Regions from separate parts of the Homo sapiens genome. Here region 2 is linked to region 1. The links come from fine-mapping of genetic effects on gene expression. A gene starts in region 1. The other region holds a variant in brackets. All regions are shown on one strand. Distances are from middle to middle.

Region 1 (4,377 bases):
TTTTTTTTTTTTGAGACAGGGTCTCGCTCTGTAGCCAGGCTGGAGTGCAGTGGCAGGATCATGGCTCATGGCACCCTCACCCTCCCAGGCTCAATCAATCCTCCCACCTCAGCATCTTAAGTAGCTGGGACCACAGGTGCCTGCCACTATGCCCGGCTAATTTTTCTTTTCTTTCTTTTTTTTTTTTTTTTTGTAGAGATGGGGTTTACACCATGTTTCCGGGACTGGTCTTGAACTCCTGGACTCAAGCAATCTGCCCACCTTGGCTTTCCAAAGTGCTGGAACTACAGACATGAGCCACTGCGCCTAGCCCTATGGTTAAACTTTTAAAACAGTCTTTACAGTCTGAGAGGTGACTGTGATTCATACTCCAAAATAATGGCCTCAATGTAGCTTGTCTTCCAGTTCAAGAATTACGTTGCCGACTCCTATCGTCAGAGAATGAGGGGAGGGGTGGAGGCATTCACCAGGCTCAGCCTCTGGTGCTGCCCACAGGGGCCCTTCTCTGTAGCTCCTGACCCCAGCTCAGGAGGGGTCCCGTGCTCACCTTTGAGTGCTGTCTTCAGCAGCTGCTGGGTCTCTGCATCAAAGGACTGGATTTTATACTCCTCTCTACTGGGCTCCCCCATGACTAGCCAGCCCCGGTAGCTCTTGACTGGGCTGGGAATAAGGACAGCACCTGAGGAGAAGAGGCGAAGGGAGCGGCCTCAGGTGTGGAGCGCAGGGCGGGTTCCGTCCTGCAGGCCCTGGACGGGGCTGACGGCGCGCTCGGGACAGGGACTCCTGGGCGGTCCGTGGCGTGCGGTGGTTGGCTGAAGGCCCACCAGGCTTGGCTTCTGGTGGGGACTGGGCATCAGCCAGGCACCTGCTGCTCAGTTTAGAAATCCCTCGCTTGTGGGATTACACAAGAGCGAGAAGCTGAAGCAGGAAAGCGCCCACCCTCCAGTCCCAGCAGGAGGCAGGAGTAGACTGGGGCAGGGTGTGTGCGGGCGGACGTTACAGTTGCTTAAATAAACCGGCCTGACGTTGCTGGCCCAGGAAGATGCCGGGTGAGGGCCAGGCTGGGAACTCCAAGCGGTGCGACTCTGTCCCCAGCAGGTCTCCGAGCCCCTCTCCCCAACCCTCTCTTTCTGGCTTTCGCCGAGTCCTTCGGTCTCAACACCCGCCGCTGCATCCCCCGGATGGGGCCGGCCTGCGTGGGTGGGGACGCAGGCGCCCTGTCCGCCGCCCCTGCCGGGAGCAGCCTGAACTCCCCAGACCCGTGCCAGCTTCTCCCTGGGACAGGCTGGTCGGATCGGCTCCCGAGTGGCAGTAACCCGGCCCTACGCACTCGAGACTCCTAATTCCTGAGCTCCATTCTGGAGCCTTCCTCTTACTGGGGGGCAGGATGATGCGCCCCGGAGAGGTGGCTCCCGCCGGAGGCTCCCCTCTGGCCGTAGGAGGCGCCTTTAGGGTCTCCAGCCCTCGGCCGTTCCCCCCGCGCCCGGAACGCCCCTCCCGGAGGCACAGGGCGGGCTGCGGAGCCCACGGCCCAGGGTCCCGCGGGCGGGAGAGGCGGCGTGGGAGCCGGGACCCACCTGCCGGGCCGGTGGCGCGCGCGCGTGCCCGGGGCCGCTCGGCGCCTGGGAGCGCGCAACCAGCGTCCGGCGCTGCGGGGCCCGCCGTGAGCTCATCTCCTCGCGCGGCGCCGGGGAAGGGTCGGCTCGCCCGCGCCACCTGCCGGGCCCCCGGGGCACTGCCCTGGCCTCCAGGCCGCCCCGGAAGCCGCGCCGCCTGCGTGGGACCCTGCGACGCTGCCACCCAGCCGCAAGCGGAACTCGCTTGGCTCGTCACCCCTTCACCCGGTGCGCCTGGGCCGTGTCCGGGCCCACGCCGGACCCGCCGGCACCTCGATCTTGCGCGTGGCCCCGCACCCAGCCCTCCCCGGAGCTCAGGTGCACTGGGCCGGGAGACACCGCTGGGCTGCGCGGCGTGGGAAGAGCCTGCAGAGCGCGTGGTGGGGACCTGGTGGCAGGAGGAACAGCATCAGCCCTGGTCGCACCACTTTCCCCGCTCCCCCAACCCAGGTAGAGAAGGCAGGGGCTGCAGGGCCGGGGCCAGCCACAACCCTCTCCCGCTCCAAGGAGGACATGGGCGAAGCGAGTTTCAGGTCATAGGGGCAGCCCCGAGAAAGGGGCCCCATTGGCAACTCGCGGCCGTCGGTTGTTGCGAATGCCCCTGAAGTGGCGCGGACCCCACCGCCCGGCGTCTGCCCTGGGTGACAGGAGGGCACCTAGAAGTGGGGGAAGAACTGCCGCCGCTCCTGCCGCGCGACCGGGAGGAGCGCTGCCGGCGCTGCCCGCGTTCTCGCCTCCTTTTAAAAGAACCGCCAAAGTGGTCACCGAAAACGGAGGAGGAAGAGAACGCTCAGCTGCAGCAAAAGAAACCAATGGGCAGGAAAGATGAAGAGAAGAAACTTTAACGGAATTTCATAAAAAATGCATTCAGGCAGCTGCATCCTCGTGGCCCCCGCCGCAGCCTGGACCTTGGGAACCAGCAGCCCAGAGCCAGGAAGCCCCAGCATTCAGGGCCCAGACAGACCCCAAAATCCCAGACCAGAGGCAGGGAAGGATGGTGCGAGGAGGAGCCCAGGACCCACACGCCAGGGCCAGGGCCAGCGCCGGCTCCCAGTGGGTGCCTCTTTCCAAGGCTGGAGAGGGAGGCAGAATGGAGGGCTTCCCAGGTCGGAGCAACCCTACAGGCCGGGCAGATGGAGGGAAGGGTGGAGGTCATGTTCTGGAGACCTCCCCTCAGCCTGGAACTGGTTTCTCCTCTGCCTCTCCGCCTGTGGGTGTCCCTCTGCTCTGGTAACACCCCAGGCACCAGCTGTGCCCTCACCAGGCTACGTGCCCGCCCCTTCCTTCTGCCATCCCCATCAGTGGGCTGCTTCAGAGCCACGGCCCTTCTGGGGCTACAGGGGAGGATGCACCCGCAGCATGCTCTGCACTGAGGAGCAGGCAGTGGGCGCTGATGCCACCTGTCCTGCTGATAGCTCCTCACCCAGCAAGGCTGACCCAGCTCTGGGTGAAAGAGGAGTCAGTGAGGTAGACTGGGGAGAGGCTGCACCTTCACCCACGCCTGCCCACAGCATGGCCCATCCACTTCCTGCACGGGCGCTGGGATCTGCTTTCCATGGAGCCCCACGGCCATGACCAGCCCGGTCCTGGGAGAGGACAGCCTGGGTGGTGGTGTGTCTGCAGACACGAAGGTCTGGGCACGGGGCCCAGAAAGTGACTGGCTCAGCCTGGAGTCTCCCCCAGCACTAGAAGCAGAGCTGCCAAGGGCTGCCGCTATGGAGAACATGGGATTTGAGGAAGGCAGGAGTCCTTTCCCTCATACTTTGTGAGTAGGCAGATGTGCCAGGGGAGATGGAGTAAGATAAGGAATGTGTGTTTAGCTTTAATGTCTATTAAATAGGTTGGAAAAACAGGCCAAGTGTAGGGACCTGACTCCTGCAAAGGGCCTACCGCAGCCCTCTGCACTCAAGCAGCAGCCCCATCCAGACCAGGAGTGTGTTCTGTTCTCCTGGCAGGCAGGGCTGATAGGTGTAGGATGGCGTCTGTTTCCTTTGGAGTGTGGGCTGGTCAGAGGAGAAACAGCAACTTCCTGCTCCTTCTCACTGTGTCGTTGGCTCACCATAGACCACGTCCTGCATTCCCTCTGATTCTCTCATGGGGAGAGCCCTGGACCTTCTGGTGGTGTCCCAGCTGGGTGGGTTCAAGGCTGCTACCCCGCTTGGGGCAGCTGGCCTGCAGGGAAGGGCCAGACGGCACCTCTCAGTGGAGACTGAATCTTCCTTCCTTCAGGAGGCTGCCTCCAGGGAAGACCTGGGGTCCTTCCTGCACTCAGCGCTGGCTGGCTGTCCTGTTCATGCAGTGGAAGACATTACAGAAGAATTCATACGAGAAGAACATGAAGCCTGTGGAGAGGGCAGCCTTCAGCAAGCTGGGGGACAGGCCCTTGAAGAAGCCCAGGGCGCCTTCCTTTTGCAGCACCTGCTTGGCACAGTCCATGAGGCCCTTGTATCTCCGTACCTGGGGAGAGGAAAGGGATGAAAATATGGATGCCCGCTCTGCTCCCATCAACACAGCCCCTGGCACATCACAGATCTTAAGAAGTACTTGCTGGACAAAGAAATGAATGCAAAATAGCAAATTATTTTATTTTTTCGTTGAGGCAGAGTCTCACTCTGTTGCCCAGGCTGGAATGCAGTGGCACAATCTTGGCTCACTGCAGCCTCTGCCTCCCAGGTTCAAGTGATTCTCCTGCCTCAGCCTCCTGAGTAGCTGGGATTACAGGCACACAACACCACGCCTGGCTAATTTTTTGTATTTTTAG
Region 2 (4,377 bases), 20 kb after region 1:
CGCGTTAGAAGGAGGTGCCTTGCGAAGCCGGGCTGCGACCTTAGGGGTCGCCGTGCTCTGGCGTGTGACTCGAAAGTCAGCCTGCAGGCGGGGTCCAAGGTTAGGGCGCGGTAGACTTGACCCGCTTTCCTCAAACTCTGTTAATGCCAGAACCCGGATAATCTCAACTTGGTAAAGATGGCAGGAAGCCTAGCAAAAAGCTGGAGGACGTCGGGAAGAGAATAGATGAGAACAGTCCCCTCGGGGACGGGGAAGGCAAAAACACGAGTGTCCCCCCCTCTCACCCCGAGTTTTAGTATTTCTCATTATAAAAGTAATATTAAAAGTATATAGACAGAAAATATAGAAAGGAAGGAGGAAATGACTCATCCTACCGCCCGCACACAACTAGCGTCACGGTTTTGCGCGACAGTATTGCCTCCTGACTTTTTAATTGCATTTTTATATTCGTGTTATCATTTTGACGCACAATTTTAAGACATTTTTATTGTAGAAAATTTCAAGATACACAGAAGTGGAATAACCCGATGAAGCCGCGTAGAGTCGCTCTCCGACCTCAGCAGTTACGCGACTCATGGGGCAATCTTGTTTCCTCTATTTCTGCACCTACCTCGCACGCGCTGCCCAGCGTTATTCTGAAGTAAATACCATCACGTGTTTTCACCAGTAAATATTTCAGTATGTGTCTTTAAAGGACAAGCATTCCCTTTTTAATACGTATACATTATGCTTCACACACACACAAAACTGTCACTCCGACCCCCCAAAAAAACTTTTAATATCAAATATGAATTAGTGTTTACACTTTTCTGAAAGAAAGAAATGTTCTTCTTTTTTTTTTTTTTTTTTTTTTTTTTTTTTTTTTTTTTTTTTTGAGACAGTTTTGCTCTTGTCGCCCAGGCTGGAGTGCAATGGTGCTATTTCAGCTCACTGCAACCTTTGCCTCTGGGGTTCACACGATTCTCCTGCCTCAGCCTCCCGAGTAGCTGGGATTACACGCGTGCACCACTATGCCCAGCTAATTTTTTGTATCTTTAGTAGAGATGGGGTTTTGCCATGTTGGTCAGTCTGGTCTCAAACTTTTTTTTTTTTTTTGAGACAAGAGTCTCACTCTGTCACCCAGGCTGGAATGCAGTGGCACGATCTCGGCTCGGTGCAACCTCCACCTCCCGGGTTCAGGTGATTCTCCTGCTTCAGCCTCCTGAGTAGCTGGGACTACAGGCCTGCACCACCATACCCAGCTAATTTTTGTAGTTTTAGTAGAAACGGGGTTTCACCATGTTGGCCAGGCTAGTTTTGAACTCCTGACCTCAAGTGATCCACCCAGCTCGGCCTCCCAAGGTTCTGGGATTACAGGTGTGAGCCACCGTGCCTGGCTGAAATGTCCTTCTTAAAACAAGTTGTTTGCTTTTCTTTCTTTTTTTTTTGAGACGGAGTCTAGCTCTGTCCCCCAGGCTGGAGTGCAGTGGCGCGATCTTGGCTCACTGCAAGCTCCGCCTCCCGGGTTCACGCCATTCTCCTGCCTCAGCCTCTCCAAGTAGCTGGGACTACAGGCGCCCGCCACCACGCCCGGCTAATTTTTTGTATTTTTAGTAGAGATGGGGTTTCACCGTGGTCTCGATCTCCTGACCTCGTGATCTGCCCGCCTCGGCCTCCCAAAGTGCTGGGATTACAAGCGTCAGCCACCATACCCAGCCACAAGTTTGCTTTTCTAAGTGACAGAGCTCAGAAAACAAACAAAAATGTTTGTCTGAATTGAGATCTTGGTTGGGTGCAGTGGCTCACACCTGTAATCCCAGCACTGGGAGGCTGAGGTGGGTGGATTGCTTGAGGTCAGGAGTTCAAGACCAGCCTGACCAACATGTGAAACCGCGTCTCTACTAAAAATACAAAAATTAGCCAGGCATGGTGGTAGGCGCTTGTAATTCCAGCTACTTGGGAGGCTGAGGCAGGAGGATCACTTGAACCTGGGAGGGAGAGGTTACAGTGAGCCGAGATCGTGCCACTGCACTCCAGCCTGGGCAACAGAGTGAGACTCCGTCTCAAAGAAAAGAAAAAGAGTTGAGATCTGAACTGAACATTGCAACTGGAAGTCCTTTTAAAAATCTATTGTTTTTCTCCACTTTACTTTTTTTTTACTTGAAATTTGTTTTCTTTCATTTCCTTTCATTTTCCTTTCTTTCTCTATTTTATTATATTTGTTTTTTTT[T/A]AAGAAACTAGATAGAGCCAGGCTGGGGGTGCACACCTGTATTCCCAATATTAGGGAGACTGAGGGAGGAGGATCCCTTGAGCCCAGAAGTTCAAAGCTGTAGTGTGCAAAAATAGTGCCTGTGAATAGCCACTGTGCTCCAGCCTGGGAAACATAGCGACACTCCATCTCTACAAAAACTAAATAATACATTTTTTAAAAGAAAGAAATTAAGTGGTTTATGCTGTGGCATTTTCCCTAGTCTGGATTTTGCTGATCGCATCCCCATGGAGTTGTTTCCACATCTTCCTGTGTCCCTTGTGTTTTTTGTTTGTTTGTTTGTTGTTGTTGTTGCTGTTTTTGAGACAAAGTCTCACTCAGTTGTCCAGGCTGTGGTGCAATGGTGCAATCTCGGCTCACTGCAACCTGTGCCTCCTGGGTTCAAGGGATTCTCCAGCCTCAGCCTCCCAAGTAGCTGGGATTACAGGCACCCGCCATCATGTCCAGCTAATTTTTGTATTTTTAGTAGAGATGAGGTTTCACCATGTTGGCCAGGCTGGTCTCGAACTCCTGACCTCAGCTGATCTGCCTGCTTTGGCCTCCCGAAGTGCTGGGATTACAGGCGTGAGCCACCACACCTGGCCCCTATGTCCCTTGTGTTCTCTGCTAATTGGTAATTAGATCTAAAAGGTTTGATTAGACTGGGTTTGACTTTTTTTTTTTTTAGATAAGGTCTCACTTTGTCTCCCAGGCTAGAGTGCAGTGACACGATCTCAGCTCACTGCAGCCTCTACCTCTTGGGGTCAAGCTATCCTTCTGCCTCAGCCCCTAGTAGCTGGGACTACAGGCACGCGCCACCACACCCAGCTAATTTTTTGTATTTTTTGTAGAGACGGGGTTTTGCCATGTTGCCCATGGCAGTCTTGAACTCCTGAGCTCAGGCAATCTGTCTGCTTCAGCCTCCCAAAGTGCTAGGATTACAGGTGTCAGCCACTGAACCTGGCCTGATTTTTAAAATTTATTTCTTTATTTTTTGAGACAGAGTCTCACTCTGTCCTCCAGGCTGGAGTGCAGTGGCGCAATCGCAGCTCGCTGCAAACTCCGCCTCCTGAGTTCAAGCGATTCTCCTGCTTCAGCCTCCTGAGTAGTCGTGATTACAGGCATGTGCCACCTCGCCCAGCTAATTTTCGTATTTTTAGTAGAGACGGGGTTGTTTCACCATGTTGGTTGGGCTGGTCTCAAATTCCTGACCTCATGATCTGCCCGCCTTGGCCTCCCGAAGTGCTGGGATTACAGACGTGAGCCACTGCGCCCAGCCTTTTTTTTTTTTTTTTTTTAGACAGAATCTTGCTGTGTTGTCCAGGCTGGAGTACAGTCATACAGTAGTGTGATCTTGGCTCACTGCAACCTCCGCCTCCAGGGTTCAAGCGACTCTCCTGCCTCAGCCTCCTGAGTAGCTGGTACTACAGGCACATGCCACCAAACCTGGCTAATTTTTGTACTTTTAGTGGAGATGACGTTTCACCACATTGGCCAGGCTTGTCTCAAACTCCTGACCTCAAGTGATCTGCCCACTTTGCCCTTCCAAAGTGCTGGGATTACAGGCATGAGCCACTGTGCCTGGCCTGATTTTTTTTTTTGTAAAGACAGTCTCGCTCTGTTGCCCAGGCTGGAGTGCAGTGGCACAATCTTGGTTCACTGCAACCTCTGCCTCCTGGGTTCAAGCAATTCTCTTGCCTCAGCCTCCTGAGTAGCTGGGATTACAGATGCCCTCCACCATGCCCGGCTAATTTTTGTATTTTTAGTAGAGATGGGATTTCACCATGTTGGTCAGGCTGGTCTCGAACTCCTGACCTCAGGTGATCCACCTGCCTCAGCCTCCCAAAGTGCTAGGATTACAGGCATGAGCCACGGCGCCCGGCCAACGTTTTTTTTTTTTTTTTTTTTTTTTTTAAATGAGACTACTTACATGGTGTTGTGTATTTCCATGAGGAACACCATAATGCCTGCTTGTCTGTCATTTTGTGATGTTTGCAGCCATCGTGTCTCAAAAAAGAATTGGTTCCTGGCCAGATGCGGTGGCCCACACCTGTACCAGCACTTTGGGAGGCCAAGCTGGGTTGGTCATCTTGAGGTCAGGAGTTTGAGACCAGCCTGGCCAACATTGTGAAACCCCTGACCTCAAGTGA

What was found. PIP is the estimated chance that this variant, and not a neighbour inherited with it, causes the effect.
Region 2: its variant is the best candidate, but not a certain one, in a credible set for the expression of MIF4GD in whole blood (TOPMed, PIP 0.68).

Annotation. Positions count from the first base shown.
Region 1 is chr17:75,269,567-75,273,943 of GRCh38, forward strand. It overlaps MIF4GD (MIF4G domain containing), which reads right to left and starts at 1,665. Exons shown (of 6, transcript NM_001370592.1): 1 at 1,578-1,665; 2 at 548-679. The coding sequence starts at 629. SLC25A19 (solute carrier family 25 member 19) reads right to left here. Exons shown (of 8, transcript NM_001126121.2): 8 at 3,426-4,073. The coding sequence ends at 3,885. MIF4GD-DT (MIF4GD divergent transcript) reads left to right here and starts at 1,733. Exons shown (of 1, transcript NR_036520.1): 1 at 1,733-4,329. RefSeq lists silencers at 1,232-1,301, 1,412-2,071, 3,042-3,091 and an enhancer at 2,580-3,367.
Region 2 is chr17:75,289,650-75,294,026 of GRCh38, forward strand. No RefSeq gene overlaps it. Among named protein-coding and RNA genes, the nearest start is that of SLC25A19, 2.4 kb to the left of the region's middle. RefSeq lists enhancers at 1-62, 153-202, 243-292. The variant T/A (reference allele first, on the strand shown) is at 2,210.